2 separate regions of the Homo sapiens genome follow, and region 2 is linked to region 1. A link means that fine-mapping ties the variant in region 1 to the expression of a gene that starts in the linked region. Tissue or cell type: cerebral cortex. Region 1 holds a variant in brackets; the other region holds the start of a gene. All regions are shown on one strand. Distances are between the middles of the regions.

The links. PIP is the estimated chance that this variant, and not a neighbour inherited with it, causes the effect.
Region 2: PLPP6 starts here. The variant in region 1 is the best candidate, but not a certain one, in a credible set for the expression of PLPP6 in cerebral cortex (GTEx, PIP 0.84).

Annotation. Positions count from the first base shown.
Region 1 is chr9:4,025,442-4,028,204 of GRCh38, forward strand. The region is part of intron 4 of GLIS3 (GLIS family zinc finger 3); the gene reads right to left. Among named protein-coding and RNA genes, the nearest start is that of GLIS3-AS1, 130 kb to the left of the region's middle. The variant C/A (reference allele first, on the strand shown) is at 1,519.
Region 2 is chr9:4,660,955-4,663,572 of GRCh38, forward strand. It overlaps PLPP6 (phospholipid phosphatase 6), which reads left to right and starts at 1,340. Exons shown (of 1, transcript NM_203453.5): 1 at 1,340-2,618. The coding sequence starts at 1,422. The coding sequence ends at 2,309. It overlaps SPATA6L (spermatogenesis associated 6 like), which reads right to left. Exons shown (of 12, transcript NM_001353486.2): 2 at 945-1,082. RefSeq lists a silencer at 1,475-1,734.

The sequences.
Region 1 (2,763 bases):
GGGTGGCGTGATCTTGGCTCACCGCAACCTCCGACTCCCTGGTGCAAGCGATTCTCCTGCCTCAGCCTCCCGAGTAGCTGGGATTACAGGCACCCACCACCATGCCTGGCTAATTTTTGTATTTTTAGTAGAGACGGGGTTTCACCATGTTTGCCAGGAGGGTCTGCGTCTCCTGACCTTGTGATCCGCCCGTCTCAGCCTCCCAAAATGCTGGGATTACAGGTGTGAGCCACTGTGCCTGGCCTGGCCCATGTTTTAGATCACATGATAGAATTAATCATGAGTCTCACATAATTATTAAAAATTTTAAGGACAGAGGATAGGCCACAGAGGTCTTATTATCAACTCAAAAGAAAATATTCATAAGAATTCAGGGGTAAGAAATATACTAACAGTATTTAAATCATGGTTTTTGCCCATGGGGAGTTTTATAAATGAAATAGCTCTCTTTTCTGGAATAATCAATAGATTATTGAGAAATAATAGAGAAAGAGACCTGGGTTATTCTGTATTATAATTAGGACAAAATGCTACAGGTAATGTTTAAAAGTAGAAGTCATGATAGGGAAGAACAAATTTGCTAACATAATCTATGCTTTGAGTCTAATCATAATCCCTACAACATTAACATTATTAATTATAAATAGTAAAAAACCTGAGACTATATGATTAGTCTACAAAGGCTTTCTTCCAACATCAAGATTATAAATGCACAGGTATTCAATCAAAGAGGCCCTCAACACTCCAGTGGCTATCTCAGTTTTAGTTGAAGAGAGTGGATTTACCCACGTAGTATTTACTGAGAAACAGTGTCATTAGACAGACTACAGACCAGTCTCAATCATCAAGTCATATAAACATAGGTCCATTAATTTTTTCCTAGCAAACACAAATTATTTTTATCATTGTACTATCTGAATAATAATGCTTTTCTGTTATCATGAAGCAACAATGCCTACAATGAGTTTCATTAACATGCACTGAAGTATGAAAGCTCAACAAAAGCATAAAAATCTATGTACTTTAAACTTTATTGTTCTCCATTTTCCAAAAAGCATTTGAGATGACCCAAAAAGGAGGAAAAAAATCTATCTATCTATCTATCTAAGTATACATATATGAGACAGAAGGAAAAAAATTCATCTGCATACATAATGCAGTTCAAAATAAAGTAATTCAATAAAACACAGATCATTTTGTGATAAATAATATACTTCTAAACCTAACTAGTAGATATTTTGACATCTCTTTTCTTTAAGCATATTTATTGGACTATTTTTAAGATATGCATTAAAGCACTTCTACCAATATCATTTTATCCATTCAAATTATCAGGGGAAAAAGAGGTAAAAGTGATAAAATTAACTTCTATTGGCCAAACACTGTAAATATGATCTCATTTAATCCTCACAATATCCTTTCAAGGTCGTGTTACTCTCTTATAGATGAAAAGAGAGAAACAAAGATAAAACTTACACACCTGAGAGGAGGTGGGGCTGAAGTCAAACCTAAGACTGT[C/A]TGACACTAAATTCCATGGAGTCTCATGATTTAAGGCCACATGTGGGAGAGGGAGAAGGAGAGGGAGAGAGCAATGGGGATCCTTTACATGTCAACCCTGCCCCATCTTTCTCTCAGCAATAAATGTGAGCCAAACCTTTGGACACAAACACAACCTGACCGACTGCAGTGTAATCAGTTCCACTCACACAGTAGTTAACAATCCACTGGGATGCAATGTTAGCAACCTGGCTAAAAGTACACATTTATTTAACTGAACAACGCTTAGCCATTTCAGCGTCACTACAATGACTGCAGAAGATTCTGAAAGATCCATCCAACCAGGTCTTTAAGGCACAAGAAGACAATGTAATTCACAAACAGTGTAATTTAGCAATTATTCACAGCAGGAGTTTTGCTAAAATAGTTCACAATTGGACATACTAGGATGCTTTTCTCATTCCCAGATTTGGTAAAGGACAATCAGTTCATTTGAGGACTGAAACATTTTCAAAATGCACTGTAAAATTAGACATATTCACTCCCCCCACCTCATCTAGGTTTGAGGCTCTTTTTTTCTCCCAATTCTATTGTTCAGTTAATCTGTGCATGCATGCCAGAATATTCTAATTTAAATCTGAGCCTGGAACATGCTATATTTTGTTTCTAGCTGCAAGAGTGTGAATGCCATAAATAACATGTACTGTGCTTGTTCTCTGTTCCTAAACAGTCTGATAAGCTCATACTGAAATCATTTCAGCAATCACATTTGACAGCTCTCTAGAATCCTGTTCTATCCAGCCTCCTAACCAGTCCATTATTTCTGCCAGTTTCCAGGCAGACGAGGCATTCAGACACCTGTCTCTAAATGAGAACAGACAGCCCCGGCGGAACCCTCGTAGGAGAGGTACGCTCCAGCTAATAGGCCATCAATCTGTCAGTGGCTCTTAAACCCCCTCAGCTTTGTCCAGCTGAAGGCCAGCTCAGAGCCTCGATCAAGGTAGAACCCAGTGGGTGAGAGTCACGTCAAGTCCATTCCAAGAGACCTGTATGCAAAGTTGTATGCTAGACCAAACCAGCGCAACCCGGATCCACTACAGCGGCAGCATAGTACTTATCTTCCTGTAACTCATTCATCCTTTAAATAAATAGTAATTGAACATCAACCAGGTCACAAAGACACCACGTGCCATAGAGAATTTTGAAGCTAGACAACTTCTAGGGTCCATTCCTGACTCCAATGCACATATAGGAGCCTACGTATCT
Region 2 (2,618 bases), 640 kb after region 1:
CTCACTGATAGGTGGGAATTGAACAATGACAACACTTGGACACAGGGTGGGGAACATCACACACAGGGGCCTGTCGTGGGGTGGGGGGAATGAGTTAATGGGTGCAGCACACCAACATGGCACATGTATACATATATAACAAACCAGCACGTTGTGCATATGTACCCTAGAACTTAAAGTATAATTTTTTTAAAAAAATGTGACATGCTCTACTCTGTAGCCTTCCTTCTCCCCAGATCTCCCTCAATGACATTGTTTGGGGCAAAATCATTAGACTTATTAAGGTTAAAATTGATTCCATCTCCAAATTCCAAAACAAAAATGTTAAGAGATTGTCAGTGATGACATAGTAATAACATCAATATTCTATGAATAGTTTAGTGTGAAGAAGGCTGGTAATGTTTTGACTATTTATATCACCATGTTATTCACCAGAATGGAATCTAGCCTTTATCACTGTAGCTAAATAATCTAGGTATGATCTGAGGAAACAGTAAATCTGAACAGCCTTTTTGTTACAGGATTTTAGTTACAGGATTTAACTAATTTCATTATTTTTTTTTCGCTATTTTTCTTGGTCTAACACAGTTTTTTCTAAGGTCCACAGTTTATTAATAATCCCTTTCGTAAATGTAATGCAATTACCTCTAACACCTCCAAAAACATTCAGAAATGCTCTCTTTGCTCCAGTTAAAAAAATGCCATGGGAGTTCCAAGAATAGGAAACATCAACCAGGGTATTTAGCACTAGATTGACAGAACTTGGCTCAGACCTGCATTACAAAAGCAAGTGTTCCGACTGCGGTTTTGCATTGTGCTGAAGTGCTTTCGGATAATTTTTTTAAAAATGAAATTTACCAAATAATGCTGTAAGAACTCTGTTCTTTATAAGAACTCTCAGGTTATCTTCAGACAACAAAAGCCAATGAGAAAGTCAAGATCACCTTTTCAAATCTCATGCTCTCCTGAATCATAATGGGGAACGCAGAGGGAAAGCTGTTGGTCTCCAGGTACTGATTCATGAGGTAGACCCCGAGGTACACATCTTGTTTGCCAGGCAGGAACACTCCTGGGCAAGAAATCTTAAAAAGAAAGAAAACAACAAACAAGGGAGAGAAAACAGACTTTGCTTTGTTTTGTTACACGGGGCTCTATTTCTCTTAAGCTCCTACAGACACTGACATTTTCCCCATCACCTCACTCCCTCACCTGTACCTCCCAACGCCAACATCCTCCCCTCTGCTCTCCTCACATTGGAAATTCCAACTCCCTCCCACGTCTCCACCAGGTGTCACAATCGCGCTCTCGCCGGCTCCTCTCCCCGCCCCTCCGGGATGGTAGTGCGGAAGCGGAAGAGGCTGCAGGGCCGGGAAGCCTCTGTTTGGTCCGGCCAGGTCCCGGGATCCGGGCCGCCAGCTGCGATGCCAAGTCCCCGGAGGAGCATGGAGGGACGGCCGCTGGGCGTCTCCGCTTCGAGCAGCAGCAGCAGCCCCGGCAGCCCAGCCCATGGCGGCGGTGGCGGCGGCAGCAGGTTTGAGTTCCAGTCCCTGCTCAGCAGCCGCGCCACGGCCGTGGACCCCACCTGCGCCCGGCTCCGTGCATCGGAGAGCCCAGTTCACCGCCGCGGCTCCTTCCCCCTGGCCGCGGCGGGCCCCTCGCAGTCGCCCGCGCCTCCGCTGCCCGAGGAGGACCGCATGGACTTGAACCCGTCCTTCCTGGGCATCGCCCTGCGCTCCCTGCTGGCCATCGACCTGTGGCTGTCCAAGAAGCTGGGGGTGTGCGCGGGAGAGAGCTCGTCGTGGGGCAGCGTGCGACCCCTTATGAAGCTGCTGGAGATCTCGGGACACGGCATCCCCTGGCTGCTGGGCACCCTCTACTGCCTGTGCAGGAGCGACAGCTGGGCCGGGCGCGAGGTGCTGATGAACCTGCTCTTCGCCCTGCTGTTGGACCTGCTGCTGGTGGCCTTGATCAAAGGGCTGGTCCGCAGGCGCCGCCCGGCCCACAACCAGATGGACATGTTTGTCACTCTCTCGGTGGACAAGTACTCCTTCCCCTCGGGCCATGCCACAAGGGCCGCCCTGATGTCGAGGTTCATCCTGAACCACCTGGTGCTGGCCATTCCACTGAGGGTGCTGGTGGTTCTGTGGGCCTTCGTCTTGGGCCTATCCAGGGTCATGCTGGGGCGGCACAATGTCACCGACGTAGCTTTTGGCTTTTTTCTGGGCTACATGCAGTACAGCATCGTGGACTATTGCTGGCTCTCACCCCATAATGCTCCGGTCCTCTTTTTACTGTGGAGTCAACGATGACACCATCTCATTGATTATGGCACCAGGAAGTCTGAAGGTTTCCACATTCGATGATGTCAACCTAAACCAGCAGCCATCCCGCTTGTCCCTCTTAGGCATTTCAGGCTTCCTTTGGGATTTCAGGTGTCCCATGATCTTGATGTGCTGCTAGGCTGGAGCACACACTGGCCATTACTGAACACAGCCATATTAGGGAAAGCAAAAAAACCCAAAAAATCCTCTATTGTATATTTATTCAACAACTGTTTATGTTTCCAGGACAACTGCAAAGAAAACAAGCTGAGGTGGTTATACTGTTGCTGTTAAAAG